Linked DNA regions of Homo sapiens: all the other regions are linked to region 4. Evidence: fine-mapped expression QTL. A gene starts in region 4. Each other region holds a variant in brackets. All regions are shown on one strand. Distances are between the middles of the regions.

Region 1 (5,398 bases), 130 kb after region 4:
GCTTTTCCCCCGTGTGGATCCTCTGGTGGGTTATGAGGTTGGCACTCCGGCTAAAGCTCTTCCCACAGTCTCTGCATTTGTAGGGCTTCTCCCCGGTGTGAGTGGTTTGGTGTCTACTAAAATTTGAACCATCACTAAAGCTTTTTCCACATTCATCACATTTGTAGTATTTCTCTCCTGTGTGGGTCCTCTCGTGTGTGATGAGGTGGGATTTCCGGCTGAAGGTCTTCCCACACTGGGGACATTCGTAGGGCTTCTCCCCTAGGTAGGTGCCCTGCAGGCCTATGAGCTGGCCAACTTCCCTGTCCTGAGAAACCACCTCCCCGTGGTCCTCACCTGGGCTGTGTCCCTGGAGCCTCTGGATGCCAGCATCTCTCTCAAAGTCACTTTCCCCATCGGAGTGCTGAGCACTTTCACCTTCAGGCATTTCCGAGAATATCTTACGTGATTCATTCTCAAACATGTCTTGATTACAGTTCTCCCCATTTTCACTCTGTATCTCAAAATCTGAAACAATGAAGAAAAACATACAATGTCTACTCAACTCCCTGTCATGATGACAAAAGAAAACGAAGGGGGAAATTTATAAAAATTAAACTTCCAGTGAACACAAAGAGGCTAGAAAATCCTCAAAGCCTTTAATAATCAGGTTTAATATACCCAAAGGAATATAAATCATTCTATTATAAAGATACATGCACACACATGTTCAATGCTGCACTATTCACAATAGCAAAGACATAGAATCAACCCAAATGCCCATCAATGATAGATTGGATGAAGAAAATGTAGTACATATACACCATGGTATACTATGCAGCCAAAAAAAAGAATGAGATCATATCTTTTGCAGGGACATGAATGGAATTGGAAGCCATTATCCTCAGCAAACTAACATAGGAACAGAAAACCAAACACTGCATCTTTTCTCTTATAAGCAGGAGCTGAATGAAGAGAACACATGAGCACATGGAGGGAAATAACACACCCTGGGGCCTGTGGGGGAGGGGGAGGGAGAGCATCAGGAAGAATAGCTAATGGATGCTGGGCTTAATACCTAGGTGGTGGGATGACCTGTGCAGTAAACCACCATGGCACGCATTTACCTTTGTAGCAAACCTGCACATCCTGCACATGTACCCCTGAACCTAAAAGCTGATGGAAAAAAAAAAAAAAAAAAACCAACCCAGGCTTATTTCATTCTGACTGGTTGTCAGGCCTCATAATCTTTGTGGCAATCACCCAGAATTTCAAAGCCTTAAAGATTTGGGTTCCATGTCCCCACTACCTGTGTCTTCATCTGAAAATGAGGTCAGGTGGGAATTTTAAAGGACATAAACAGGGTACCTACCCAATTACCCCCACACTCACCATAATGCCTGGTGCTTGATTCAATGTAATGAGTGCATGAATGAGTTTTTTTATTGGTACCATAGACATTTCCCTAAAGCTCAGTCTCCTTTCAAAAGGAGCTTATATAATAATTTCTTGTATTGACATGTATCTGGTGTTTATGACCGCATTACTTTGTATTTAGACACAGGAAAGATGACAGAGCCCGTGCAATAAGGACCCTAGGTGTGTATACCAATGACTAGAAGCAAGTTAACTGGATTGTTAAAAGAGCCCTCAAATTTGTCTGCAGTGGGAGCTTATGAATAGATTTTTTTTTTTTTTTTGAGACGGAGTCTCGCTGTGTGGCCCAGGCTGGAGTGCAATGGCGCGATCTCGGCTCACTGCAAGCTCCGCCTCCCCAGTTCACGCCATTCTCTTGCCTCAGCCTCCCGAGTAGCTGGGACTACAGGCGCCCACCACCACACCCGGCTAATTTTTTGTATTTTTAGAGAGACGGGGTTTCACCATGTTAGCCAGGATGGTCTCGATCTCCTGACCTTGTGATCCGCCCGCCTCGGCCTCCCAAAGTGCTGGGATTACAGGCGTGAGCCACCGCGCCCAGCCATGAATAGATCTTTAATTGGTAATATGTCTTCCAGGAACTTGTTAAACCTTCCAGTGCCCAAATATTTGAGTAAAAGAAATCATTAGGGAGGACTGCTAGAAGAACATAGCCCCTTCCTTAGATGAGGGACTGTAAAATCTACCCGAGGATGAGGCCAAAGCAGCAGAGAGCTGAGCCTGGATCACACTGTTCTGACCCCCGGCAGAACTGTGTTTACTGAATAGTG[T/G]GTTGGCTTCATAGCCCTGGCTGACACTCTAAGAAGTGTCATTAGAAATTAATGACTGACACCGGGCATGGTGGCTCACGCCTGTAATCCTAGCACTTTGGGAGGCCAAGGTGGGTAGATTATCTGAGATCAGGAGTTTGAGACCAGCCTGACCAACATGGTGAAACCCCGTCTCTAATAAAAATACAAAAAAATTAGCTGGGCATGGTGGTAGGCACCTGTAATCCCAGCTACTTGGGAGGCTGAGGCAGGAGAATCACTAGAACCCAGGAGGTGGACGCTTTGGTGAGCCAAGATCACGCCACTGCACTCCGGCCTGGGCAACAGAGCCAAGACTCTGTCTCGAAAAAAAAAAAAAAAATTAATGGCTGTTGGGAACATTAATGCTGCCAGGAAGTTGTTGATGACATTGTTTATACCACACAATGTCCTCTTGATGAGCCTGAGGAGGAAATTTCCCTCTTGACCTCAATCCTAAAAAAAGCTGCACTTTTTTCTATTTTTTAAGACAGAGTCTCACTTGGTCACCCAGCCTGGACTGCAGTGGCGAGATCTAGGCTCACTGCAACCTCAGCCTCCCGAGTTCAAGAGATTCTCCTGCCTCAGCCTCCAGAGTAGCTGGGACTACAGGCGCACACCACCACGCCCAGCTAATTTTTGTATTTTTAGTAGAGATGGGGTTTCACTATGTTGGCCAGGCTGGTCTCAAACTCCTGACCTCAGGTGATCCGCCCGCCTGGGCCTCTTATAGTGCTGGGATTACAGGTGTGAGCTATCGCGCTCGAACTCCTAGTGACATTTCTATTATTAAAGCTAAAAAACTTTATTTAAGGTTAGATGCTCAATTAATTTTCTGTAAGTTAATATAAACTCTTACATATGAACATGATAAAATTGGACATGCCCCTCTCAGGCAGGACCTGGGCTCCACTCTTGCCTTCAGTCAATTTAAGATCACATTTATTTTTATTTTTTATTTTTTTGAGACAAGGTCTTAGTCTGTCACCGAGGCGGTAGTACAGTAGCGAGATCGCAGCTCACTGTAGCCTCAACTTCCTGGGCTCAGGTGACGCTCCCACCTTAGCCTTGCAGGTAGCTGGGATTACACAGGTGTATGCCACCACACCCAGCTAATTTTTTTGTATTTTTGTAGAGATGGGGTTTTGCTATGTTGCCCAGGCTAGTCTCAAAGTCCTGGGCTTGAGTGATCCTCCTGCCTTGGCCTCCCAAAGTGCTGGGATGATAGGCATAAGCCACCATGCCTGGCCATAAGATCACCTTTAAAGTTGAAAACAGGCATATAATTAAACTCCATGCTTACACTGACACATGCTGCTGGTAATCTGTGGGTTCACAGAATTGCCCTCCAGCCCCACCCCTCATATCACTAGGGGACAGATACAGGCACAAGGGGCACAAGGTATACTCTGACTCGGCAGAACCAGGAATTCTGTGTTTCCTCAACTTCCTGCAAGACAGTCTTTTTTTTTTTGGAGTCTCACTCTGTCACCCAGGCTGGAGTGCAGTGGCGCGATCCTGGCTCAGGGCAAGCTCCGCCTCCCAGGTTCAAGCAATTCTCCTGCCTCAGCCTCCTGAGTAGCTGGTACTACAGGCGCACGCCAACACGCCTGGCTAATTTTTGTATTTTTAGTAGAGATAGGGTTTCACCACGTTGGCCAGGCTGGTCTCAAACTCCTGACCTCAAGTGAGCCGCCCGCCTTGGCCTCCCAAAGTGCTGGGATTAGAGGCGTGAGCCACTGCGCCTGGCCATGGAAGACAGTTTTTTTTTTTTTCTTTTTTGAGACAGAGTTTCGCTCTTGTTGCCCAGGCTGGAGTGCAGTGGCGCGATCCTGGCTCCCCGCAACCTCTGTTCCCCGGGTTCAAGCAATTCTCCTGCTTCAGCCTCCCAATTAACTGGGATTACAGGCATGTGCCACCATGGCTGGCTAATTTTGTATTTTTAGTAGAGACAGGGTTTCTCCATGTTGGTCAGGCAGGTCTCGAACTTCCAACCTCAGGTGATTTGCCCACTTCCGCCTCCTAGAGTGCTGGGATTATAGGCGTGAGCTGCCATGTCTGGCCGGAAGACAGTTTTTTGGCAAGTTTTGAGCACAGAGCCCTGCCAGCATCTCTCTTCTAGAAGAACCTGCAGGCCAAGACCCTGATTAATTTTTAGCAAACTAACATGACCAAAAACATTTTTTTGGGTGATTTTAGTAATTGAATAGGTAACATTAGCTAATAAGGCTGTTTTTGCTGTTTTAAAATCAGAACTGGTTAGCTCTCCAATGAGCTCGGAAGCAACAAGGAAAACAAGTAAAATCCAATTTTATTTTCAGTGAGATCAGAAGATAAAATATGTAGGCACCAAAATACATGTCAGGGCTTCCCAAAACAGCAGACTGGGTAAAAGCAATGAGGAAGGAAATGCAATGAATAAGCATGGAGAGCCCTGGGGTGGGAGGGAACAGAACTCAGAAAGCTCAGGCAGAAAATCACTTCCTGTGTTTGGGAACTGGGGTAAGCAGGGCTGGCTTCTTTGGTTCAGAGAGGCAAAGGAGGTGAGGCTGCAACTGGAATCACACAGGGCAGCCATGTACGCAGGAAGCTGTTTCTGGAAAGCAGAGAAGGAAAGAGCCTTTGACCCACGCACATTAATCCAAGGTATTTATTTATTTATTTTTTTGAGATGAAGTCTCACTCTGTCACCCAGGCTGGAGTGCAGTGGCACTATCTTGGCTCACTGCAACCTCTGCGTCCCAGGTTCAAGCGATTCTCCTGCCTCAGCCTCCTGACAAGCTGGAATTACAGGTGCACACCACCACCCCCGGCTCATTGTTTTTGTATTTTTAATAGAGATGGGGTGTCGCCATGTTGGCCAGGCTGGTCTCGAACTCCTGACCTCAAATGATCCAACTGCCTCGGCCTCCCAAAGTGTTGGGATTATAGGCTGGAGCCCGGCCCAAGGAATTACTATTACTGAGAAAAGTGATCATTTCCATCCATAAAAATAATTAAATGAGGCAACTGCCTTTATAAAGGAATACCACAGAGAAGAGCTTGAAGAAGGGATGGTGAGACAACAGGAAGAGATTAAATGTACACTAGAAGAACTCAGGAAAGGAGGGAAAATCAGCCAGAGAAATGAAGACAACAGGAAAAGGAGCGCAATGGGAATAGGCATCTTGGAAAGCACCATTCCAAGAATGGGA
Region 2 (5,398 bases), 220 kb before region 4:
TCTCTATAGAAACAATTTGAGTAACCTAAAATCAATGTGCCTGCACCATTCCAGCAGCCTAATATTTCCCCCCCCTCCCCGCCTCCCTCCAGCTTAACAGCCTAATCTTGTGAGATCCTCAGTATGTGGCTTCCACTTGGGGCTCCACAATGGCCTCTATCACACTTACATTCTAGCCAGAAGGAAAGAGGAAGGGATGGAGAATGTGACCAACTATCCTGGCTTGCCCAGGACCGAGAGATTTCCTAGGATACAGGACTCTTAGTGCTAAAACCAGTAAAGTCTCAGGCAAACCAGGACAAGTTGGTCATCCTAGAAGAAGTGCATGGCCCTCTCTTAGGTATACTTTGGAAGTTATATAGCATGTTGCTTTCATCTCATTGGCCAAAACTTAGTTATGTGCCCCCATCCACCGCAAAGGAGGCCAGGACATGTTGATTTTATTCTGGGTGGCCATATATCCAACTATACACTTATAAGAAAAGAAGGGAAAATGGCTATTGGAATCAACAAGCAGTCTCCAGCCTAAATCCAGAGAGGAGACTTCCATGTATTGCCACCAAAAAACTGCCTTGCAGGTCTGTATTAGTCCATTCTCATACTGCTATGAAGAAATACTTGAGACTGGGTAATTTATAAAGGGAAGAGGTTTAATTGACTCACAGTTCTGCAGGGCTGGGGAGGCCTCAGGAAACTTACAATCATGGCAGAAGGGGAAGCAAACACATTTTTCTGTACATGGTGGGAGGAAGGAGAAGTGCCAAGCAAAGGGGGAAAGGCCCTTTATAAAACCATCAGATTTTGTGAGAACTCACTCAACTCACTATCATGAGAACAGCATGGGGGTAACCACCCCCAATACTCAATTACCTTCCACCAGGTCCCTCCCATGACACGTGGGGTTATGGGAACTATAATTCAAGATGAGATTTGGGTGTGGGGACACAGCCAAACCATATCAAGGTCCAAGCACTGGCATTCCATACTGAGGATCTTCAAAGGCAAGGAAGTCTCAAGCCTTACAGGTAAGACAAAGAGGGAAGCATCAATCATTCCCTCCTGCTCCTATGTTGGCAGTCTGCTTCCAGCTGCAGACGCACTTGCTTTTCCAGCCTCCCTTGCAGCTACAGCATGGGCCTCTGGCTTAATCCCAGGATAGAAAGAAATATCTGCTGGGGCTTCTGTGGAAAGATTCTTCCCATCTAATGAATGCATGGGAGGAAAAGCCTTTTCTACTAGTCATGGCCCTGTCTGGGTGTAATGTCCAGAACTTCAGCAGCCATCTTGTGACCACAAGGGGTCAATCCAAGGATAAAATCAAAATAACAGAGCAGAGAGGTGGCAAGAGCCAGGGTCCCTGGTACCATCATTGATGCCTGGATTAACCCTGGAGCCACTTACCCCTGGAGTTGCTACTATGTGAGATATTAAAAATCTCACATCATGTAAACCATTTTCTATTGAATGCACTGTTACTTGCAATTGATATTGGGTAATGTCAATCATTCTAACCAATAAAGAGCATGTCTCCTACTGAGTGAGAGGAAGGAATAGGTGATCTCTGTGCAGCTGCTCCTGCTGGGAAGATCTGTTGGGGCAATGAGTGCCCTGAAAGGAGTGGGCAATCTTCCTTCAATGTCTTCCTTGCCTCCTTCCCTGTTTCTCTTCTTTTCTTCTTCCTTCCCTCCTTCCTTCCATCCTTCCTTCCCATGCCCTTATCGTTTCCTTCCCCTTCCCTTCCTCCCTCACTAGACATCAAGCCCTAAAGATACTGTTTTAAACAAGATGGACACATTTCCTTCCCCCAGAAGCATACTGACATGTATGAGATAGATGATTAAACAAGACTTCACAAGGTATGACAGGGGCCAAGACAGGAGAATCAGGGTGCTGTGGGAGGTCCAGAACAGACTCCTAACTCAACTTATAAGTTCAGATGGCTTCCTAGAGAAGACAGCCACATTGGGTCCTGAGGGATGAGTAGGAATTAGGTACATGAAAGAAAGGAGTGGTCAAGCGTCTGGAGCAGCCTGTGGAAGAGCCGAGAGGAAGGAGAGTGCAACTCCTTCAAGGGACTGAAAGCAGCTCAGTGAGGCTGGAGCTAGGACAGAGGAGGCGCTGTGCTAGGAAATGGCTAGAGGTGAAATAGGGGGTCATCAGGGGCTGGATCTAAGCATCCTCATGAGCCATGATGAGGAGCTGGCACTTTGCCTGAAAGCACCAACTGGACCATCTGCCTCTTAACCACCCACTTGCTCTGCATGGCTCAGCTGCTGTCCAGGTCTCATCCTGGGTGAACCCCATCATGGACTGGCCTGGTGTACAATGGCTGATAGACAGGCTCGGGGGGGCAGCTGGACCCCAGGTAGGTACCCTCCCTGGCCATGCCAGAGCTGAAGAGAAGCCAGCCCTGTCCCATACTGTGTTGTGGTGTGATGGGCCACTTTGTGAAAGGGTGTCCCACCCTCCGCCACGTGTCCACCACTCGCTATGACTGTAGTCCCTTCCCTGCTTCTGAAACTGGACTCCTGCTTCCCCACCCCTCTATCTAGTGAGGGAATATTCTAACAGCCCATTCTAGCAGGACCTCAGGATGGAAGATTGGAAGCTCCCTGTCCAGGGAAACACAAGTGGATGCCCACTCCTGGGGAGAGGGTGTATAAAGATCCTCAGCTATGGGTCACATGGGGCATCCAGTGGTGGTAGGCACTGCTTGTTGGTGAGCATGAGAGTAAGGGGTGTGGCTAGGGATA[G/A]CCCGAGGGATTGCAAGGCTGGAGTGGTTTGGCCTGTTTCTTGATTTTTTCTAATTCAATTTAAATCTGACTCTAAGCCACTATCCCACTGAGCTGGCAAGAAATTCAATCTCAGGCATATCGTTGAGTCTCCCTCCCCCATTCTCAAGATTTTGCCAAGGTCCCAGGGTCTTAGGCAGTGCTGAGGCGTCAGGCTGGCTCCACTGGTCACACTAGCAAATGCAGAACATCCATCATCCCAGCCTTGTGGCACCTCAGGCTTGGTGGCTCTGCTGATTTGGAGTCACCCTTGGAATGTGGGAATTGTGAGGGAGGGGCGAAAGCTCTGTGCTCAGATCCACTCTCCCTGAGTGTACCAGGCAGCCATGTCCTCTAAGGCCTTGTCACCTTTGGACACTGCCTAGAGTCAAGGTTTGAGACCTTTCCTCCCTACCCCCAGCCCTAGTCACACTCTGCCCCTTTCCCTTCTGGGGTAAAAATCTTTTCCTCTCCCTTCTTCCTGCTCTCAAAGGCCCACCCTTGGCCTGGTGCAGTGACTCACATCTGTAATCCCAGCACTAGGAGTTTGAGACCAGCCTGGGCAACATGGTGAAACCCCATCTCTACTAAAAATACAAAACATTGGCCAGGCATGGTGGCATGCACCTATAGTTCCAGCTACTCCAGAGGCTGAGGTGGAAGGATCACCCGAGCCCAGGAGATGGAGGTTGCAGTGAGCCCTGATCATGTCACCATACTCCAGCCTGGGCGACGGAGCAAGACTCTATCTCAAAAAACAAAAAATCATAGGCCCACCCTTTCTTTCTTCTCTTTCCAGGACACCTTACAGAGTCTCTATAAAGAGTCAACGAAGGCTGGGTGCAGTGGCTCACACCTATAATCCTAATACTTTGAGAGGCTGAGAAGGGAAGATCACCTGAGGCCAGGAGTTCGAGACAAGCCTGGGCAACATAGCGAGATCTCTGTCTCTACAAAAAAGAAAAATTAGCCGGGCATGGTGGTGAGCACTTGTAGTCTCAGCTACTCTGGAGGCTTAGGCGGGAGGATCACCTGAGCTCAGGAGTTGGAGGCTTCAGTGAGCTATGATCACACCATTGCACTCCAGCCTGGGTGGCAGAGTGAGACCCTGTCTCTAAAAATAATTAAGAAATTTAAAAAAAAATTTAGGTCAAGATTATTGCAAAAGACAGAAAGACCCACCAACTTCCGATAGCTTTTATGCTCTGACCACCAGAAATACCCAAGGCAAGGAAACACCAAGGGACTCACTCTCTGCTTGAAAGAGCCAGGGGAGGAGCAAATGTAAACCAAATGAGCACAGGGTAACATTTCAATGAATCATCTTGCCCCAGTGGTTTGATGAAGGGCAGTATCTCTGTCGTAGGTGCTGCCGTTGTGAATCCCAAACTCTTCCTGGCTGTCTCACCTAGTTAGTGACTTTACCTGGCATGAGCTTCTCTCACCCAACATCTTGGAGTACTTGGACCACCTTAAACTGCTGCTGTATTAATTAACTGTCATTAAATGATGCTGCCGTAACAGTCTCGGAATCTTAGTGTCTTACGACCATCAAGATTTATCTCTCAGCCAGGCAAAGTGGCTCATACCTGTAATCCCAGCACTTTGGGAAGCCAAGGCAGTAGGATCATTTAAGGCCAGGAGTTCAAGACCAGCCTGGTCAACATAGCAAGACCTCGTCTCTACAAAAAATAAAATAAAATAAAATATTAGCCAGGTGTGACGGCACATACATGTAGTCCCAGCTGCTTGGGAGACTGAGGTAGGAAGATCCCTTGAGCCCAGGAGGTTGAGGCTACAGTGAGCCATGATTATATCACTGTACCCCAGCTTGGGCAACAGAGTGATACCCTGTCTCTAAAAAAAAAAAAAAAAATTCTCTCTCACTCACAGAATGAGTCACCTGAGGTTGCTGCGGCTCTATTCCATGCATTTCTTTATCCTGAAATCCAGGCTGAAAAGAGAAGCCCCTTTCTGAGTCACGCTGTTCTCAAAAGAGGCAGGCTGCTTGGATGGTTCAGAGCACGGCCTTGCATTCAGATAAGGCTAGGCAAAAATGCCTGCATTATCAGAGTTAATGCTTACAACACCCCTACGAGTTCGGAGGTGATATTCTCATTTTACAGATGAGAAACCTGAAATTATCTTGCCCGAGGACACACAGGGATGTGAAGAAGTGGAGCCGGAACTCAACCATGTATGTGTCTGGCTCTAAAGCCCAGGCTTTCCCTCACCCTGCTATTCTGTCCCTGCAAAGCCAATTCAGGATCAGCCAGTTAAACATGCTGAATTGAGAGCACCTGTAGTTAGCACTGTTGTCGCTCAAAACTCCACTAAAAAAAGGGGAAAGAAAGAAAAGATTTATAAAGCAATAAGGACTAAGAGAGTGAGAGCAGCAACAGGAGAGATAAGGAATGTTAACACAGTTTTGGAAGCAGAGCTGATAAAGCTGAACTGTGAAGCTCAGGAACTGGAGGCACCTATTACTGCAAAAGCGAGGGCGAAGGTGGGGCTGAAAACAGGAAGCGGAGTTGAAAGCCTAGAGCCCCAGGCCCACCTGCCCATCACCCACATCCAGGTGGCTCTTTCTTCTCTGACAGGAAACTGGAGTTTTATCCTATGGAGAT
Region 3 (5,398 bases), 70 kb before region 4:
AGGCAGGAAGATCACTTGAACCTGGGAGGCGGAGGTTGCAGTGAACAGAGATCACGCCACTGCACTCCAGCCTGGGTGTCAGAGCAAGACTCCATCTCAAAAAAAAAACACACTAAAATAATAAATACATAAAAGAGTGAAGTAGGCTACGGAAAACTAGAACTGACCACGAAAGCTGGGGGCCTCCATCCCTCCTGGCTTTCATCTAGTCTGGGACATAAAAGGCCTTTGGACAGTCCTGGCCTGATACCTCAGGTTCCCTAAAAGCCCTAGACAGCCTGGCTGACCCATGCTGAACAGCAGAGCTTGTTTCAAAGCTGTCTGTAGTAACATCATAGGTTCTGTGACTTCTCTGAGCCCACCTGGACCAGGGCCTCCAAGAATCCAGGGGGCAGGGGTTTCTGGAACTTCTGAGTGTCCCATAAAAGCTAATTAATCATAACTGCTTCAAAAAAAAAATCAAAACTGCTTCTACTCAATTTTGGCCCCTTAACTTCTCTAGCCTACCCACATCTCACTGTTCTATGGGGGTGAGGTCCTAGATGCCGGGTGACCTGGGGGCTGGGCCTACAGTTTGGTGGGACTATCTGCATGTGAGACCTCTGACCCCAGTGGGCATTGGAAATATTCTTGCACCGACATGGACTGGAAACCCTTTCAGAGCTGTGGGACAGAGAGAGGTGCATAGGGAGATAGGTTCTGGGCCATCCACCAAGGCCTCTGGTGTCCATCAGCTCAGCTGTCCATCAGTTCCCAGGGGTAGCCCCTCCTCACAAGGGTCCATGAGAATGATGCCTGGAGAGCTCCATGACACATCTTTGTGAAGGTAGACCCAGAAGATGTTGGAGCCAAGAGTGAGTGGGGACAGAACTTGCCTCTCAGTCAGGACTCTGGCATAGTCAGGGCTCAGCTGGGCTGGAGCCAACATAGCTGGCAAAATTCTCGAGGGACTGTCTTTCTCCCTATCTCTAGGGAGCTCTCCCCACCCCCACAGGCAGTGAGGCTGTTCTGAGGGACAGCAGACAGTACGGTGGCTCCCTCCAACACAGGTCAGGCCTTACTAGAGAAGCAGGAACTGCCTCGCCTCCTCCACTCCCCACTGCAGCCCCAGTCACATTCTCCCCACTTTGGCCAAAGGCTTTTCCAGATGCCTGATAAATCTGGCTGTCCTTGTCTCTCAGAACCTCTAGGGGTCTGTGGCTAGCCAGCAGGAGCAGTAAAAAACTCTGCAGGGGCAAAACACAGCCCAAAGTCCAAAGCTTTCTCCCACTCCTGCTGTCCTGCCCCCTCCAGATACTTGATGAAAGAGACTCCTTTTAAGAACATTCCCATTTAGGTCCAAAGGGACTTAAGCCAGCCACTTCTATCCTGCCTCTAGCTCTCAGGCTGGCACAAGCTTTGTGCTCATGAGGTGTACAATTAACATTTATCTATCATACAACTGCTCAGCCAGGCAGCAGCACTATGTCCATTCTCCAGCCCTTTTCCTAAAAGCCCAGATCCCCTGCCCTCCCCATTCTGCCTGGTTTTCAAGGCACTCTTTCCTCCCTTCCTTCATTGCTGCTGTCTCCAAGAAGGACCCTGGTTCCGCCTCTTCTGTTTGTTCCACTGGTATTGACAAAGGCCAAACACAGGAGGCAAAGCCCAGACAAGTCACTGTGACAAATGTGAGGCTCCCACAAGGGAGTCAGCTTCTCTAAGGACTGGAATAAATGTCCAAATTTCATTCTGGTTTATCTGTAGAGCCAGGAGTAAGAAAAAGGGGTATTCTTTCCTGGCAGCCAGGGGCCTTGTTGAGTCTGACTCAGTCACTAACATCAGTCCTCAGCCCTGCCCCAGACATGTGACACCATTTGACGAGTTTTATGCAGAAACCGGTTCCGGTTACATTTGAACTTTCCCAACTCCAAGGTCAGTAGGACTCAGCCAATTCACGAGGAAGTGCCCAGGACTTTTCCTGAATGTCCTCGATGCCTGTTTTTATGCTGTTTTAGGAATGGAGAACAAGAGGTCTCTGGACAGCCTCTTGGAGGAATGGCCGTTTTCTGCATAATACACAAGTCAAGTTCTCAGGCTATGAAACAACCACTATCTCAACACATTTCCCTTTGGAAAACAGACTCCAGAAGTGAAGGGAAACTGAGCTGCCCACAGGGGGCAGGAAGTGTCTGTCTCCATGGCAA[T/C]GCGCCTGTCCACGTGTGCCTGTGTGCCTTTGATTTCCTGGATGCCTGTCTATTGTCTTTGTGTCTTTATATCTGTGGGTGGCCTAGCTGCTAAAACAAAGCTTCCACACCTCTTGAACTCTTGGAAGACCAGTGAAGGGCTCATCAGTTCCACACCTCCCTTGGCATTTCACTTCCCCAAACTGGACAGGGCACTTGGCTCCCTCAGAGCTGCAAGTCCTTAATTCCCAACATCTCCAGACAGTACCTCATCCCACCCCCTATCTCACCAGCCCCCACTCAGGTCCTGGGGAGGACCCAAGTCCTCGGCCCAGTAGAGGAACCTTATTTACAAAGGTTTATTTCTTCCTGGAGAACCTCCCCACCCTGAGCTAAGCAGCTCCTACTCTGGGCAGCCCCCCAGCACCCTCTCCCTGTCCCCACCAGTGCTCTCCCCCTCCCTTCCTGCCAGGGAGGAATTTCAGCCACTCTGGCTTTCCTTATCGCTAGCTGTGGAATCCCAAGCCAGGGAGTAGCAGGGTAGGGGGCAGGGGAGATAAGGAAAGCCTTCAGACCCCATGAAATCACTCCAAAGTGGAGCCTTTGTCCTCTCTTGAGCCTCGAATTGCCAGAGGCCTGAGGCGCATGGATCAGGAGGGGTCACAAGGGGCTATGAAAGCCATTCCAGCCCGGCCATGTCCCCAGGCCCTGGGCCTTGGGGCTGAGAGGGCTCGAGGGCGCAGGCCCAGCCCAGGCCTCCAGGGGCCAGGCCGCCCTCACAGGGACTGATCCCAGGGCATCGCCGGCCCGACGCCGCCCTGCCCCTTGGTGCCACTTACCTGGTCTCGGGCCGCACGCTGAGCAGGTAGCTCCGGCTGGCTGGGCTGGGGATCCACACGGGGCCGTCGTCCTCACCGTCGCCCCCCGCCCCCGACCGCCCACCCGCGCCCCAGCCCCGGCTGGGGGCCCTCCGCGACCCCATGGCACCGCCCTCCCCGACCGCCGGCCCCGCACTCGCCGCTGCCTCGCCTGTCCTCCAGGCCCCGGCCCCCGGGCCCCTGCCCGCCGCCGCCGCTCCCGCCCGCGGCTGACGCGCGCCCCTATTTATAGCCGGTGGCCGGGCCGTCGTCACCTGCTGCTGTCCCTCCCCTGGCCTGGCCCGACCCGGGCAGCGCGGCTTGGAGACGCCGGGGGGCGCCGGGGCCCATGTGCCCGCCCCAGGGCCGGCTCCGAGTCCGCTCCCTTGGCGGCCCTGGTGTCTGCAGTAGCGCCGCGTCTGGAGAGGCCCGGGAGGCCTCGGGAGGAAGGCGCAGCGGGTGTCCTGGTCATGGAGGACAGGCCCCTTCGTGGAGCTCCCGGGACCCGGCTCCCGGCCGGCCTGCTCATGTCCCGTGTGGCATATGAGGGGTCCACGAGGCCTGGCCGGGGCCAGGGGAGCCAGGTCAACCGCTGGCCAGCTTGGGCTAGACCGCGGGAGACCAGGGAGCCAAAGAACCAGCCCTCTTCCTGGCACCAGCCGTGACTGACCCTCGCCTTGCCTCGCCAGTGGCTGTTGGCCCAGCACATAGACAAGCCAAGCCACCTCCATTAGTGACCTGAGTCCCTGGGAGGCCGGAACCCCGTGGGATCTCTCTCCTGTCTCCCCCAACACCCCCAGTAACTAGCATAGATTAGGGGCTCAATTAACACTTCTAGATCACTCCTTCGGCCTCCATTTCTCAGCACCAGAGGGGGAAATGGGCTGAGTCCTGATACCCAGAAAAATAATCAAATCATGCAACAATTTCCAAGAACTAGTGCCAAGCACTGCCGAAACCTGGTCTAAATATTGGAAGTCCCCACAGACTTTTTTTTTTTTTGAGACAGAGTCTGGCTCTGTCGCCCAGGCTGGAGTGCAGTGGCGCTATCTCGGCTCACCGCAACCTCCGCCTCCCGGGTTCATGCCATTCTCCTGCCTCAGCCTCCCGAGTAGCTGGGACTACAGGCGCCCCACACCACGCCCGGCTAATTTTTTTCTTTGTATTTTTTAGTAGAGACGGGGTTTCACCGTGTTAGCCAGGATGGTCTCGATCTCCTGACCTCGTGATTCGCCCGCCTGGGCCTCCCAAAGTGCTGGGATTACAGGCGTGAGCCACCGCGCCCGGCCGGAAGTGCCCACAGACTTTTTTATCCATCCTTCTTTCTCCTATTTTCCTGAGAGCATCCAGAAAGTACCTGAAGCTAAATGGCTGTAATTGTTAGAAAGTGGGAGCAAAGGAGTCCAACCCTTCTGTTTTCGAAGCTGCACCCATCCCTACTCCTTTTGGAAATGGCTTTCCCCTACTCCGTGTGGTTCCAATGGCAACTACCTTGTTCCCACATGATCCCACTCCTGGCCTCAGCTGACTGCCATCAAACTCAAGCCAGGCTATTCACGGTACCCAATCTCCCTGACTATAGACCCTGGCTGTGCCAATAAAGTTCTTCTCTAAAACATTTTTAACTGGAATTGGGAAAGAAAACCAGACCCTCTGTGGTGGAAAACTGAGCTGTGAGGCCACAGCTGTCAGCAGCCATGTTTCCTGCCCTGTAGAGTAAGCCAGTTTACAGTGAGGAATAAGGAAGCTAGCACAGAGAGAAGCAGAGGCAAAGGACACAGGGTCCTGGTGGCTTTCAGGTGCCCTCGTTCAGGTGTTCCTGGGTTCCAGCTTTGTCCCTGGCCTTCCTGCAGGTTGGCAGTTCAAACTTTCCTTGGAATCTGTGTACCAAAAAAGTTCTCCCTTTGCTATTTCCAATTTAGGCTTCTGTTGGTAGAAGTATCCTGACCAATACTAATGTGTTCTCTCCTAGTGATCCCAAATTCATCTCTTGATCACATGTCCCCATTCATTCTTGCTCTTGGCTCTCTGGAGGTGCACAGAATCTTCAGTCATCTACAGGGTAGTCTTTCAAATATTTGAAAACCCACTTGGAGTTCTGGTTCATTTGTTTAAATCGTGTATGCTGGTTCAAGCAGCAGAGAAAAAAAGGGGGTGGGTGGGAAAGCATGTGAACACTCATGGGTCAGGTTAGGGCACAGGTGCTAGAGGCCGGGGTCACAGGGTCTCTGCCTGCAAGAAGCTCACAGTCTAATAGGTGGGACAGGCAACATACGATGCAGGGGAAAACATACAATTCTAAAACTATGTATAGGGAAGCACCAAAGTACAGAGAAAACAGTGGTTAGTTCTGCCTGTATTAGGACAGTTTTACAAGGA
Region 4 (5,398 bases):
CCCTTCAAAGGTTCCTAATTACACTGGAGATACAAACCAAACTAAGGAGGGAGGCATTCTGCCCCCAAGGCCCCATTGCTCTAATTTGGCCCTAGTCTCCAGACTAATCTCCCCTCTCCCTTTCCCCCTCCAGCCCCACAGGCCTCTTTCACTTCCTCCTTGCTACAGTCAGCTCCACACATGGTTAACTCTTAACCCTCCTTCAGATCTTGGCCTAAACATCACTTCCCCAGGGAAGGCTTCCCTGAGCCCCCAACTCAAATCGGTCTCTTACCCCTCTCTTCAGCTTTCTCTTCTTATATTCACTATAGTTTGAATTATTAGTTTACCACTTCCAAGTTTTACTCGAAAGACACCTTCTTAGGAAGCCTTCCCAGGCCACCGTATAATATAAATTCAACTACCACCCCTGATACCTCAGATTCTCCTTCCCTGCTTCCTTCTTCTCCTTAGCATTTCACACTTTTTAACAGACTATATTTTTGTTATATATTTTATTTATTGTCTTCTCCCCCACTCCCAGGAAAGCACCACAAGGGCAATCATTTTTGCTTTCTTTGTTCACTGCATCTAGAACAATGCCTAACACGTATTTGTTGACAAATATTTGTTGTTGAATAAATTTCCACGACTATTTATTTATTTTGAGATGGAGTCTCACTCTGTAGCCCAAGCTAGAGTGCAACGGCACGATCTCAGGTCACTGCAACCTCCGCCTCCCGGGTTCAAGCAATTATCGTGCCTCAGCCTCCCAAGTAGCTGGGATTACAGGCATGCACCACCACACCCGGCTAATTTTGTATTTTTTTAGTGGAGACGGGGTTTCACCATGTTGGTCAGGCTGGTCTCGAACTCCTGATCTCAGGCGATCCACCCGCCTCGGCCTCCCAAAGTGCTGGGATTACAGGCGCGAGCCACCGCGCCCGGCCACGACTATTAATTATTAGACTTTCCCAATGGCTAAGAACTAAAACATGGTATCTTTCTGGCTTACCAATGTACTCCCAACACCTAGCTCAGTGCCTGGCACAGAGTAAGTGCTCAGTAAAAATTTATTTAATGAATCAAAGCCACAACTAGTTGAAAAATTGGAAAATGATCAAAATGGACGCACTAGCACCACACTTCTGCCCCTTTCACTGTGTAACGTAACAGTGAGGTTGAGGAAACAGACTACTAAAATACCACCAAGCATCCACCAGGCCAGGAATCTGTCTGTCCACATCCTCCGCACTCTGCCACACTGTGCACCACACTGCACCCGCGACAGAAGCACCCTACAGGCCCTCCATGAGCACAGGCCTGAACTCAAGTGGGCAAACCATAAGCCAAATACCGTCTTACTCCCCAAGTCCCATTCTTCTACTGCCAGTCCTATTCTAGACTAGTCCTGGATGCCAAACATGCTTCCCTGGGTGGGCCTGTGGACTTATTCCAATCCAGGACCTTTAATGCCACCTTTGGCCTACTCAAAAAATGGTTTAAAATCCCTAAACAGCTTCAATAATCCTGCAGTACTCAGGAGCAGGCATACCTAAGGTCATACGGACCCCTCCCCCTCACAAACGCTGATCCAAGGCCAGGAGGCCATCTGTCCAGCAGACGCTCTCCTGTCCTCCCTCAGGTCACACTGAGCCTCCCGCCAACCCCCTCGTTGGCAGGAAGAGCCCTTGCAGAGAGACAATTTTCACCCTGATCAACAGGCCTGGTCACCCCTGAGGACCCCAACTCTGGAGCTCTAGGAATACCTGTCTGCTCCGGGAGAAACCTTCCTCAGGGTCAGAACTTGGGCTCAGGGGAGGGGAGTACTGAGGAGCGCCAAAGAGGGTCGTTCCCCGAAGTGTCTGCCCTGTGACGGCGACAGCTCTTCGGGCGGCGGGGACGGTCGGGCTGACAGGCCGTCCCAGAGGGAGAAAGTGGCACCGTTATCCGTGCCCGGGCTGGGGGCCGCCGGCTATCGCCGAGGGCGGCCGCACGTCCCGCCCAGCGCGGAGGACAGCAGCGTGCCCGGCCTGCCAAGGAGCGGCGGTCGCAGCGGCGGTCGCAGCGGCGGAAGGGGCCGGCGCCCGACGGCCGGGGGCGGGGTGGGGTGGCGGCCCGGGCCCGCCAGGCGGCGGTCGGGGGAAGTGGCTGCCGCCTCTGGCGGCGGCCAGGGTCCGCCAGGCTGCAGGGCCGGGCCCCGGCTCGGGCTCGGACTCGGTCCCGGCTGCGATCCTCCCGGGCCCAGGCTGGGGCTGCCCCGGCCCGCAGGCCCCGCTCGGCCCGGCCCGCGGGGGGCGCTTACCTGGCGGCGGCGGCGGCGACTGCAGGCCAGAGTCTCGGCCGCGCGCGTCCCCAGCGCCGGCTGCGGGAGCCACAACATGGCGACGGCGATGGCGGGCGGGGCTGCGGCTCCGGGGGCGGAGCGGGGGCGGGAGCCGGCCTGGCGGCGGGACCTGGCTGGGGCTGCCGCGGCGGGGGATTGGGGGGGGGGGGGGGCAGGCGGAAGGCGACTCGGACCTGGGCACCGGCCCAGGACGGTGCGGTGGAGGGGCTGCCCCGGCCTGGGCCCGGCCTCCCGCCTCCCGCCTCCCGCCCGAGGCGGGCTGCGCGGCGCAGGCCCGGCGACGGCGACGACGGCGGCGGCGGGTAGGGCGGGGCGGGACGCGACGGGACGGGGCGGGGCGGGGACGGCGCCGCTCAGGGCTGGACCCCCGACCCCGGCCGGCCCCCGCCCGGCTCCAGTCCCCGCCACCCGTGCTAGGCACCCTGTGCGGTCGGGCAGGCAGCCGCTGCCAGCGACCTGGGCCTCTTGTCCTCTGACGCGCCTCGGGGCAGGGGCAGGGGCCGAGGCCGCCCACTAGAGGAACAGGATCTGCCTACGCAGCTGTCTCGCCCGGCAAAGAGCGCCCAGGACCCGGGACTGCGTCCTCTTCACTGAGACCTGGCGCATAGGGGGCCTAGTCGAGGCTGTTAAGTGAAAGCAAGCAGGGGTGGCGTGGGCCTGGCGCTCAGGTGCGCCCTAAATGTTTGGTCATAGCTGGCTACAAGGACATTCGCGCAGGCTTGGAGGTGCGGGGCAGCCTGACGTGTTGCCTCTGGGGTAACCGAGGGACGCGCGGCAAACAGAGATGGAGGACTGGCAACGGGTGCCTCGAAGAGGTAGACTGGGAGATCTCTCAGGGTTACTGGGGAAACGATGACTGTGCAGGGTGAGAACTCAGTGAGTCTGGCAGAAGGCTGGGAGGGTGACCGGCAGGACCTTCCAAGAACCCGGCGTACCTGGAAACTGGGTCCGCAGCATTAGGGCGGCAGCAAGGTCAGGGTGTGGGAACACGGAGATGAGGCCCTGGTGACTAGGAGTGAGCACACACTGCTAACCATGGAGAAATTCCTTCTCCAGGAAGGAGATGCAAATGTGCAAGATGGCTGGAACTAACATGCAGCCGGAGCCTGCTGTGCACCAGGCACAGAACTGAGTTGAAGAGCTTGTCTAAAGAGTATGTTAGCCAATGAAGCAATGGAGTTAATAAAGGGTGATGATTTCAAATGTTTGGCAGTGAGAGAGAGAAAAGTAGGCCTGGAGCTCAAGAAGTACCAAGAGTAAAGGAGAAAGTTGGGTCCTACTGTGGAAGCTGAGGCAAAAGCATCCCTTAAGCCGAGAAGTTTGAGTTCAGCCTGGGCAACATAGCGAGACCCTCCCTCTCTGCAAAAGAGTAAAGGGAAAAGTTGATTGTTTTTTGTTTTTTTTTTTTGTCTTTGGAGACGGAGTTTCGGTCTCGCAGCCCAGGCTGTAGTGCAATTGCGTGGTCTCGGCTCACTGCAACCTCTACCTCCAGAGTTCCAGTGATAATCCAGCCTCAGCCTTCAAAGTAGCTGGAATTACAGGCGCACGCCACCATGCCTGGCTTTTTTTTTTTTTTTTTTTTTTTTTTTTTTTGAGAGAGAGTTTCGCTCTTGTTGCCCAGGCTGCAGTGCAATGGCACAATCTCGGCTCACTGCAACCTCTGCCTCCTGGGTTCAACCGATTCTCCTGCCTCAGCCTCCCGAGTAGCTGGGATTACAGGCATGCGCCACCATGCCTGACTAATTTTGTATTTTTAGTGGAAATGGGGTTTCAACATGTTGGTCAGGCTGGTCTCAAACTCCTGAACTCAGGTCATCCACCCGCCTCGGCCTCCGAAAGTGCTGGGATTACATGCATGAGCCACCGCACCCGGCCCTAATTTTTGTATTTTTAGTAGAGATGGGGGTTCGCCATGTTGGCCAGGCTGGTCTCGAACTCCTGACCTAAGGTGATCCACCTGCCTTAGCCTCCCAAAGTGTTGGAATTACAGGCATGAGCCACCATGCCTGGCCGGTGATTTTTTTTTTTTTTTTCCTAACTTGAGTGGGGAGACCTTAACTAAAGGAGCTGAGAGGGGAGAATGGCAGATAGATGTAGGATAATTGATGGTGCAAGAAACCAGAAAAGGAAAAGTAGATGGGAAGGGGGAAAGGGGTGAGCAAAAAGTCAGAGAAGTCCGCCTCTTCCTACAAGATTTAAAGAGTGCATAAAGATTGAAATATTTTGAGGTAGGGAGGCATGCATGCTTCCATGGATCAGCTGCCTGGATTACCCTCTACAATCATCCTTAGGGCAGCTGGGGTCACTGTCCTTTAAAATTTAAGTACAATTGACTCCAAACCTGTGTACCACTTAAGAAACCCAGCATACCTGCCAATATCTCCAGAGTTTCATTGGGAACTTACATTTCTCCTAATTATCTCAGGCCCTAATTTCTTGTTTGCAAAAAATATTGTGCTCTTTGGAAGATTTGTCACCATATCCCAGATATTAGTCCATTTATATTACCTCAAAATATTGCACCCTACCTATAAGCAGGAAAAATGCCCAATATTATATTATTATATTATAGTTATATGATTGTTAAATAAACTAGAGTTTGTGGCCATTAAAAATCATGGTAAATAAAAAGATTTAATGATGTGGGAAATCTTTATAATTAAAAGCACATTATAAGGTGATATAGCAGATGGTAATATATAAATATACATAAATAAGTATAATGCGTAGATTTTAAAATGAGACTTTTCTTCTGTGACATCTATATTTTCTTATTTTTATAGTGCATGTATATTTCTCCTGGAAGCAGGGAAATGGTATCTTTAAGTAGCTTTTAAAAGTATTTTTAAGAAAGGTGTTTTTTAAAAGATATTTATGGGGTTCGAAAGAAAAAAATATTAGGGCTGGGCATGATGGCTCATGCCTGTAATTCCAGCTACTTGGGAGGCCGAGGCTGGTGGATCACCTGAGGTCAGGAGTATGGGACCAGCCTGGCCAACATGGTGAAACCCCATCTCTACTAAAAGTACAGGCGTGGTGGCACGCCTGTAGTCCCAGCTACTTGGGTGGCTG
Region 5 (5,000 bases), 54 kb after region 4:
TTACTTCAGTGTGAATTTTTGTTTTGCTGCCAAAATCTTAATGTGTTTGATATTGGGATATTGCCATAAACCCTGCTAAGAGTATATGTAACATAGGGTACATGCAAGTATTACCTTTTCAAAATCACACCCATTCTGAATCCTGGAACACATCTGACCCCCAAGGGTTTTGAGTAAGGGATTATGGAGCTATATACATTGTAGAATCCTACAACCCCTTCCTCAGAGGTTCTGAATTAGGGCCCAGAATCTATTGTCCTAACCAGTACTGTAGGTGATATTTTTAGTGCAGAAAGTTGGAAATTTGAGTCTTAACTGAATTCCTCACTGTTTATCTTCTGGTTGACATAATTGTGTCTTAGAAGCTAGTTTTCCTACTTCTATCATGTCCCACTCCACGTCTTCAATTCAGCCTTCAGAATAAGAAGACCCATTTTGTCTTTTAAAAAGCCACCATCTTGAAAACATAGAATTTAGGAGGCCAGAGTTCTAATAGTGCTACTCTGCCAGCCAGTAGACAAGCAGCCATGAGCATGTCGCTTAGCTTCTCTGTGCCTCAGTTTCCTTACCTGTAAATGTGAGTGTCAAAGTAGGTTTCAGATTATCCATGTGCTCACATCACTCTATTACTGAAAGAACAGCAAATATTTCTAATTGTCTCGGCGAAAATGTTCATATTTCCTTTTGTGGAAATTGATTAATTACATTGATTGAGTACACCGTGCTTCATTGGAATGCTAGAAGAATAGTGTTCTGGCCATTAGCGTGGACTTAAAAAAATAAACCAAAACAGTTTAGTTTTGAACAGGTGATACTTGCATATAGTAAAAACTGTAAAAACATGAAGTATGTATATCAGAAAATATTTTTCTTCCACCTTGACTCCTGGTTCCTTTTCTCCAGTTTCTTGTCTGTCTTTTCAGAGATTAACTGTGCATTTATAAGAATATGAAACTTGATCGCTTCTCGGCCTTTTGGCTAAGATCAAGTGTGAAGAATATGAAACTTGAAATGTTTTTAAAAAGTATGCAGGAAAAACAGGTTAATTGTAGGGAGAAAATAGAAAATGGTACAAGAGAGCTGGATTCCTCATCACAATTGTATTTATTTTTTGAGACACAGTCTTGCTCTGGCACCTGGGCTAGAATGCAGTGGGGCAATCATAGCTCACTGCAGCCTTTACGTCCTGGGTTCAAGTGATTCTCCTGCCTCAGCCTCCAAGGAGCTGGGACTACAGGCATGCACCACCACACCCAGCTAATTTTTCTTTTTTTTTTTTTGAGACGGAGTTTCGCCCTTGTTGCCCAGGCTGGAGTGCAATGGTGCGATCTCGGCCCACTGCAACCTCCGCCTCCCAGGTTCAAGCGATTCTCCCACCTCAGCCTCCCGAGTATCTGAGATTACAGGCATGTGCCACCAAGCCCAGCTAATTTTGTATTTTTAGTAGACATGGGGGTTTCTCCATGTTGGGCAGGCTAGTCTCGAACTCCCAACCTCAGGTGATCTGCTCGCCTTGGCCTCCCAAAGTGCTGGGATTACATGCGTGAGCCACCGAGCCCAGCCTCTGGATATTTTTTTTTAATCATCCGCATCTCTATTTAGTGTGCTAAATTTTCCTCTACCTTCTTTTTTTTTTTTTTTTTTTTTTTTTTTTTAGATGGAGTCTTGCTGTGTCGCCCAGGCTGGAATGCAATGGTGCGATCTCAGCTCACTGCAACCTCTACCTCCCGGGTTCAAGCAATTCTCCTGCCTCAGCCTCCCGAGTAGCTGGAATTACAGGCACACGCCACTGCGCCTGGCTAATTTTTGTATTTTTAGTAGAGATGGGGTTTCACCATGTTGGCCAGGCTGGTCTTAAACTCCTGACCTCGTGATCCGCCTGCCTCGGCCTCTCAAAGTGCTGGGATTACAGGCGTGAGCCACTGCACTCGGCCTTTTTTTGTATTTTTTTTTGTAGAGATAAAGGTCTTGCTTTCTGGTCTCGAACTCCTAGGCTCAAGTGATCCTCCCACCTCAGCCTCCCAAAGTGTTGGGATTACAGGCATGAGTCTCTGTGCCTAGCCCCTCATTGTACATTTTGAACATCATGCATTAACACCCTAGTATGAAAGTAAACAAACAGTTTTTAGAGTGGTTGGGGTAAACACCAGAATGAATAGCTAGAAGAGATGAAAATGGTTGATGTAGGTGGCCTGCCATGGCTAGGATATTGCTTTTTTTTACATATTCTTGTATGTATGTGTGTATACTGTTTTGATTAAAAATAACAATTGATTTAAAAAGGGAAGTAGAAAATGTAGATGATCAAAATGAAATAAATAAGAATTGCCTAGTATTACACCCCCAAATATAACAACTAACATTTATTTTATTTTCTTCCTTTTTTTTTTTGAGAGAGTCTTGCTCAGTTGCCCAGGCTGGAGTGCAGTGGTGCGATCTCAGCTTACTGCAACCCCCGCCTCCTGGGTTCAAGTGATTCTTGTGCTTCAGCCTTTTGAGTAGCTGGGATTACAGGCATGTCCCACCACACCCAGCTAATTTTTGTGTTTTTAGTAGAGATGGGGTTTCGCC[A/G]TGTTGGCCAGGCTGGTCTCCTACTTCTGGCCTCAAGTGATCCACCCACCTCAGCCTCCCAAATTGCTGGGATTACAGATGTGAGCCACTGCACCTGGCTTCTTCCATATTTTCTATGCATTTTTTGGAATTTTTCAGAAAAAATTGAAAAAACAGTACAGGGAACACCTGTAATCTGTCACACAGATCCAACAATTATTAGCATTTTGGCCATATTTGTTCTATGTATACTTATGTGTGTGTGCATATATAGAATTTTCTTTTGCTGAATCACTTGAAAATGAGTTGCAGATATGAGAATTCACCCCTAACTACAACTACTAGCTAACTACTACTAATATGCATCTCCTGTGATAAGGATAGTATTCCACATAACCACAACACCATTATCACATAATTTAAGAAAATTAGAGGCCGGGTACAGTGGCTCACATCTGTCATCCCAGCACTTTGGGACGTCAAGGCGGGTGGATTGCTTGAGGCCAGGAGTTTGAGACCAGTCTGGCCAGCATGGTGAAACCCCGTCTCTACTAAAAATACAAAAATTGGCCGGGCGTGATGATGCATGCCCATTGTAATCCCAGCTACTTGGGAGGCTATGGCACGAGAATCACTTGAACTTGGGAGGTAGAGGTTGCAGTGAGCTGAGATCATGTCACTGCACTCCAGCCTGTGTGATAGAGCAAGACCCTGTCTCAAAAAAAAAAAAGAAGAGAAAAAAAGAAAACATGAATTTCCTAATGTCATTTAATATTCAAATCATATTTTGAGTTTCCCCAGTTCACCCCAAAATATTCAGATTTTTTCTTATGCTTTTTTTTTTTTGAACCAAGATCCAGCCAAAGTTTGTGCATTATTAGAACTGAATGAGAAGAAAAAAACAACAAAGAAACCAAAGTTTGTGCGTTACATTTGGTTGTTATATCTCTTTAGTACTTTTTAATCTAGAACAGTCTTCCACCTTTTTTTCCATGACATTGAATGACATTGGATTTTTGAAGAGACTAGGACAGTTGTGTAGAATGTCCACAAGCAAATATTAACAAAAGTGACCAGGCATGGTGGCTCATACCTGTAATCCCAGCCCTTTGGGAGGCTGAAGTAGGCGGATTGCTTGAGCCCAGGAGTTCAAGATCAGCCTGGGCAATATGGCGAAACCTCATCCCTACAAAACATACAAAAATTACCACGTCTGGCTACTCGGGAGGCTGAAGTGGGAGGATTGCTTGAGCCCAGGAGTTGGAGGCTGCAGTGAGCTGTGATTGTGCCACTGCACTCCAGCCTGGGCAACAGAGTAAGACCTTTTGAAACTTCTGTTTTTTCACTTTATATTACTAATATTTTGTTAGATCCACAGTTTCAGTCCTGTGTTTAAGTTTCTTCATAGTTGGACCTTAATATATGCTTTTTCAGATTTCTCCCAGTACTTTCCAGTACCAGCTTTTTCCTTGAACTATTTGCCATGGTGTCTAGTCATCCTCTCTATACTTTTTCCAGCCTTGGCCCAAAACAGTTAGCTCACATTATTTATCTTATCTGATTTTGTAATATTTTTTGCCTTTTTCCACGTGTTCTGAATTTTCTTTATTTGAAATTGAAATGCCGTCTGGTGTTTTATCTGTTTATTCAAGTCACAGAATTTTAGAGTTTGTTGGAGTACTGGAAATTTAGTAAGAAGGCTGACCTTCAAGTCTTGACTATGTGACTGATAAGCTTAGGACTTGGTGAAGTCTCCTCTTTTCGAGACAGTTTCCTTAACTGTAAAATGAGAAGGTAGAGTTAAATGTCATTAACTATTCCCATGATTATCAAGGGATAAGTATAGTAGAAAAGTAATAGAGGGCCGGGTGTGGTGACTCACGCCTGTAATCCCAGCCCTTTAGGAGGTGGAGGTGGGCAGATCATTTGAGGTCAAGAGTTCGAGACCAGCCTGATCAACATGGTGAAACCCAGTTTCTACTAAAAATTCAAAAAAATTAGCTGGGCGTGATGACGCATGCCTGTAGTCCCAGCGACTCGGGAGGCTGAGGCAGGAGAATTTCTTGAACCCAGGAGACAGAGGTTGCAGTGAGCTGAGATGGCACCACTGTACTCCAGCCTGGGTGACTGAGCAAGAGCGAGGCTCCATCTCAAAAAAAAAAAAAAAAAGAAAAAGAAAAAGTAATAGAGGAGTTCAGAAGCAGAGACAGATTACTCTTGGCTGGTAAGTAGCATGAGTGATAAATTTAAGCTGAATGATTATGGAGCCCAAATGAAATAACTTGTGTGAAATGTTCTTAAAATAATATGGTGTTATATAAATGTAACTGATGTTTTACCAAACAAAATGGAGCAGGGTGCTTTGGGTGAAAGAAGGGGGGCCTGTTTTGATCTGCTGATGGCATAATTATTATAATGTATTAAAGAATGTCTCAGAACTGTAGTTGTCC
Region 6 (5,398 bases), 81 kb before region 4:
AACATATGTAAAAGCACAAAGATGAAGTGAACAGGCAAGGAGAGTAATAGGAGCAACAAAATTTTGAAAGTTAGAAAGCAGATGGACAAGTGGAAACTGACTTAGCAGACTCAAGACAGCTCAACCCTAAGCTAGCAGTGGAGAAAACTGAGAACTATCCTTTCGACACCAGAAAATCCCCAAAGGGCCTAAGAATTGGCAATTTGGTACCTCTGGAACTGGGAGAAAGAGGAAGGAGGAAAGGTTCAAAGATGCTTAAAAAATAAATCTTTGGAACCCTTCAACCATTCTATCTCACTGGATGACTGCTCCTTCCCCACCACAGCCAAAGATGAAGTTTATTATTTGGAAATGTAAAAATCTGCCCTGAGAGTAAGCCAGCATAACTGAGGGCATGACTATTCTATGAAAAATAGAAAAATGTAATAACCATATATCATAAAATAAATGTCTTATGCTGAGAGCCCACCCAACCCTCTGATCTGCATAACTCCCAGAAAACCTTTCGCTAGGAAACCTAGCAAGTTCAAGAGGAAGGAACTAAAGAAACTTACTTGGCAGTTCCCAACAGTGGCTACCTAGGTCACCCTACAGTAAACAGCCAAGTTTTCAGGCCCCTCCTCCTTGCTCAGAACTTCTGATCAGCTTTTAAGTCTCCTACTCTTGCTCATTATCTGACAGCCAAAGATTTCTAGATATGGGAGGAAAGCCTACAATCGAAGATTAATGACAAAATTAAATTAAACAGAGAAAAAGCAAGACAGAAGAAAAACTATGCAAGGAAAAGGAAGCTTTTAGAAAACTATCATTAATAAGCATCTCAGAGAGCTAAGAAAAGATACTACATTCATGAAAAGTGCAGGATGCTACAGAAAATGACAAAAATTAAAACCCTTGGAAATTAAAATTCAGTAGAAGAGTTGAAAGATAAAACTAAGGAAATCTCCCAGAAAGTAGAGCAAAAGACAAATAGATGAAAGGGGAATAAAGGATAAGAAAATAAAAGTCCACGACCAGGGGAACAGCTATCCAAACAGGAGTTTGTAAAGTAAGACGACAGAAAACAGGAGGATAAAATCAAATTTCCCAGAACTAAAGGCTCTCCGTTTCCAACTGAAAGCATCTAAGCATGTTCCAGGGTGAAGAGACCCATATCGAAATACATCATTATGAAATACCAGAACACTCTTACAAGCTTCCAGAGAGAAAAACTGGTCACATGCAAGGAATTAGGATCAAACTGTCTTCTCACTCTGAAAAGCAACACTGGAAGCAAAAAGATAATGGAACAATGTCTAAAATTCTGAAGGGAAATTATTTTCAGCTTATAATTCTATACCCAGCCAAATTCGCAAGAAAAAGTAAAGTAGAAAAAAAGAGGCCGGGCACAGTGACTCATGCCTACTATAATCCCAGCACTTTGGGAGGCCAAGGTGGGAGGATTGCTTGAGCCCAGGAGTTTGAGACCAGCCTGGCAACATAGTAGGACTTAGTCTCTATCACACACACACACATACACACACACACAAAATAAGTTGGGTGTGGTGGCACATGCCTGTGGTCCCAGCTACTCAGGAGGCTGAGGCAGGAGGATCACCTGAGCCGGGGCGGTTGAGGCTGCAGTGATCTGTGATCATGCCACTGCACTCCAGCCGGGGTGACAGAGGAAATCTTGCCTCAAAAAACAAACCAACCAAACCAACAAACAAACAAAAACATTTTCAGACACAAGGAATCCAACATCTACTTCCCATGTACTCTTTCTAGAAAGCTGCCAAAATAAGAATGTAAATCAAGAAAGAAAAAAATGTAGAATACAAAAAGCAGAAAGTTACCACAGAAGAGAGGTAAACCAAATCTAGAGGATGGTAACTGTGTACCAGATGCAGAGAAACGAAGGCACATTAGACCAGAGGGACTCAAGGGAGAGCAAGGTCCAGACCTTGCCATCACTATGCCCTCTGCACCATCTTCAGGACCTGATGAAACCACTGGGGCAGTATTCAATAACGCAAAAAAATAAACCAAGAAAGGAAGACATGAGATCCAGGAAGCTGAATTAAATCCACAGAAAAGCAAAGGGAAGAGCCAGGATAACAGCTGTGTATCAGGCCCTAAAAGCCTAGCAGTTCAGATAAAAGAAGAATGGAGAGCTCCAAGAGGAATATCTCCAAGGAAAGTAACTGCCAGATTACTGATGTCATTGACCTTGCAGAATATCGTATTAAGAGGCTATTAGGAGGTATAAGAAAAATTAGCAACAGATACAAAAAAAAGAAACAAATGAAAAACTATGGAAAGTACTAACCTCAGGAAAAACAAAAGAAAAAATACAAGCATAGTATGCTACAATGTTCAGTTATGAATAATATTGTATAGGCATAATAAGGTAAACAGTAAATGTTGATTAAAGCAAAAATTATGATATAACTGAAGCAGGATAGTTTTAGAAAACTATCATTAATAAGAGTCAAGGAAGTAACCATGTCCTCAGGACACAGCAACCATCCGGACTATACAGTCAACACAATAAGCCCCAGCATGAGCATTCTAAAGTTCTTTCAAGCAAAGCTATCTCCAGTAGGGAATTCCCATGTAGAGAGCAGGAGCATTTTGATTTTACCTGTCCTCAAACTCACCCTTTGCTCATTGTAATAGTAAAAAGCACACCCCTGGGTGGAGATTTAAGATGCATGTCTCATTAGCATGGGTGTGGTGGCACGCGCCTGTAGTCCCAGATACTCACGATGTATAAACAGCATGTACAGCTACTGCGCATGTGCACCCAGAGGACCACCCAGAACATGCTTAGGAGCAACACCGCTTCCTACCTCCTCATGAATAATCATGTAAGACTTACAGAAACGGAGTCGCCCTAGGTACCAGTCTTTGCTGTCTCATCCTCACGAGAAGCCCATGCTGAATCTTCTCTCTCTCAGGGTGTCCTGTCTATTCTGCACCTAACTTTTACAGTATTCTTTTTC[C/T]TTTGCAATAAATTGTTCTATCTCCTTTGCTGTGTGTCTTTTGTTTCAAGTTTTTAAAACTAAGAAGATAAGAACCAAAGTTCCACAACTGCTGTCAACATAATTATATGAAGAAGATAAGTTCAGGGAAACAGAGAAAATGATGGTATAAAAGAGCTAATTCCTTATCTACCATAACAGGAAGACAATAGAGAACATCTAAAACTGAAGAATTTCACGTAGTACTCAGCATGATGGAAATGTATACATGCCAGAAGAAACAGCTAAAAGCTGAAAACAGTTGCTTCTGGGAAGACAAATTGAGAGGGGTGAACTGCTGTATTTTGAAATATGCCTTTTAGTATAATTTGAAGTCTTAATTATGTGCATATATTTATTTGACAAAGTAAAATTTAATTTTCTTTAAAAAGAAGGATTAAGGACTTTCTAAATAGAGAAAATGAGATGTGCAAAAGCATGAAGCTGTGAAAGAACCGGGTTTTTCTAGGAAACTGTAAGTGCCACAGTAACACAGGAGATGCAGGCGGGAAGCAGCATCAGATGCCGGAGAGCAAAAGCAGTGTCTCCCTCACTAGTGCTGCGGACTTTGGCAACGCATCAGCCTCTCTCAGCTTCCTCCTTGGTAAAATTTGACTAAAAATAGCACTTACTTCATAGGGATTTGTAAGAATGCAATGACAATGGAAACAGACAACTTGCGAAATTCACCATACGCCATACAAAGGTATGGGATGCACACCTATGTCGCTCGGAGCAGAGAGTGTTCTCAGTCTGCAGCTCAGAGGGTTGAGTAAGGGTGAGAACTGCCCAAGTGAGAAGCTGTTTACTGGCTGGGGTAATCAAGTCCGCCAGAATTCACAGCTGGAAACCACGAATGACCTTGACTTACAGAAACAACAGGCTCTCCAGAGGGAGCCTGGGCCTGGGATCTAATAGCTGCACAGCTGGGAGGGGTGGGTACCCATTTGTGGGTCCTGCGGGCCCTGAGGCTGGTCAGGTTGGAGTCTCTACTGGGTGATCTGGGGGAGAGGCAATGTCTGGAACCACCCTCCCAGCACTCCCACCCATTATCTTCCCCTTCCAAGGAGTATCACTCTGCTTCCTATTCTGCCAAACGGTTGCTTCAAATTCCATCACGAAGCTCAGTGAAATGCAAGTAACAGTCAGTTTCTAACTCTTATGTGGTACTTACTGTACATAAGGTACTACTCCAAACACTTTGCATGTATTAACTCATTCAGTCTCAAATAACCCTATGAAGTGCATCCTATCATTATCCCCACTTTACAGATGAGGCAGCTGAGAGGTTATATAACGTGCTCAGTAACATCATTGGAAAGGGGATGAGCCAGGACTCCAAGCCAGGCAGTCTGCCTCCAGGGTCTGTAGTCAGAATCACCACATGCAATTCTCCTCTCAGGCTTGAGACTCCCAACCTTCAAATTACTCAACTATAACATGGGGATACTCAGGGAGATGGCCTCAAAGATCTCTTTCCATTGGAGTACTTCTTTTCTTGCAACAAATAAGGCCATTAGTCATGGATGTATCCCTGAGGGTCAGGAACCTTCACTGAGGACAGGTTCTGAAGAAGAGTAGGGTATATATGTGGCTCCAGAATGGGGGAAGCAAGGGGCACCAGCCCACACAGGGATGTTAAACTAGAGAGAAAGCTCAGAAAGTAAATGTCACCTCACGTAGTTTTGTGCACACAGCCCGCCACCCCACCATTCCTGTCCTCACAGCCTCCTTGGACCCTGCTCTGTGCAGAGGCCCTGGCATGGAGCATACAGACAGCATCCTTACCTGTGACGATGCAGGTGAACCTGACGTCGCTGTCCTCGGACACAGACCGGGACTTGAGCGTGGTCTCAAATAGCGGCTGGGTCTCCTCTGTGAGCTGAGCAATGATGGAGCAGAAGGTGCTCCTAAGAGAGGCAAAGAGCTATTCAGAGCTGGCCTTCCCCACAACAAACAGCACAGCCTGGCCTGTCCAAGGCAGCTTCCGTCTTACCATGCCTGCCCATCTTCCTGTGGCCAGAGCTGCAGCACCCCGGCAAGTCTTTCTTCAAGGCAGCTTGTGCCTCTTGGCCAGGCTGGGGCCAGGTATCAAGGGGTTGAATGGAATCCTGGCCCAGACCCATTACAATAGGCAAGCTACTGACCATGGGCCAGGCTCCTGAGCATGCCAGTCTACAAGCCCAGGTGTCCCATCCCATCATTGTTTGAGGGGCCTTACTTCACCCTGCACCTTTCATCTCCAGGGACACTGGTGCATGAGGGAGACACACAGATAAGTAGGTCAAGCCTCAGAGATGGAGCCCCCAGCATAGCAGAGCCTTCATTCATGCCAAGAGGGGAAGGCCAGCCAACCCTCAGTGATTCAAGGGTCCTAAGAGCACAGGAGCCTCTCC

What was found. PIP is the estimated chance that this variant, and not a neighbour inherited with it, causes the effect.
Region 1: its variant is fine-mapped to the expression of ZNF592 in whole blood (TOPMed, PIP above 0.99).
Region 2: its variant is fine-mapped to the expression of ZNF592 in left ventricle (GTEx, PIP 0.98).
Region 3: its variant is fine-mapped to the expression of ZNF592 in whole blood (TOPMed, PIP 0.96).
Region 5: its variant is fine-mapped to the expression of ZNF592 in whole blood (TOPMed, PIP 0.98).
Region 6: its variant is fine-mapped to the expression of ZNF592 in whole blood (TOPMed, PIP above 0.99).

The regions. Positions count from the first base shown.
Region 1 is chr15:84,615,711-84,621,108 of GRCh38, reverse strand. ZSCAN2 (zinc finger and SCAN domain containing 2) reads right to left here. Exons shown (of 3, transcript NM_181877.4): 3 at 1-507. LOC105370947 (a long non-coding RNA gene) reads left to right here and starts at 4,697. Exons shown (of 4, transcript NR_186225.1): 1 at 4,697-4,850. The variant T/G (reference allele first, on the strand shown) is at 2,187.
Region 2 is chr15:84,960,581-84,965,978 of GRCh38, reverse strand. It overlaps a transcript of SLC28A1 not described here. Among named protein-coding and RNA genes, the nearest start is that of PDE8A, 19 kb to the left of the region's middle. The variant G/A (reference allele first, on the strand shown) is at 2,754.
Region 3 is chr15:84,815,199-84,820,596 of GRCh38, reverse strand. It overlaps ALPK3 (alpha kinase 3), which reads right to left and starts at 3,241. Exons shown (of 14, transcript NM_020778.5): 1 at 3,002-3,241. The coding sequence starts at 3,144. RefSeq lists enhancers at 424-953, 954-1,485, 3,613-4,143. The variant T/C (reference allele first, on the strand shown) is at 2,184.
Region 4 is chr15:84,745,551-84,750,948 of GRCh38, reverse strand. It overlaps ZNF592 (zinc finger protein 592), which reads right to left and starts at 2,357. Exons shown (of 11, transcript NM_014630.3): 1 at 2,285-2,357. RefSeq lists enhancers at 1,386-1,465, 1,994-2,833, 2,906-3,205 and silencers at 1,866-2,355, 2,416-2,835.
Region 5 is chr15:84,691,744-84,696,743 of GRCh38, reverse strand. All of the region lies in intron 1 of SEC11A (SEC11 homolog A, signal peptidase complex subunit), which reads left to right. Among named protein-coding and RNA genes, the nearest start is that of SEC11A, 22 kb to the left of the region's middle. The variant A/G (reference allele first, on the strand shown) is at 2,572.
Region 6 is chr15:84,826,998-84,832,395 of GRCh38, reverse strand. It overlaps ALPK3 (alpha kinase 3), which reads right to left. Exons shown (of 14, transcript NM_020778.5): 3 at 4,791-4,912. Among named protein-coding and RNA genes, the nearest start is that of ALPK3, 12 kb to the right of the region's middle. RefSeq lists an enhancer at 4,935-5,398. The variant C/T (reference allele first, on the strand shown) is at 2,985.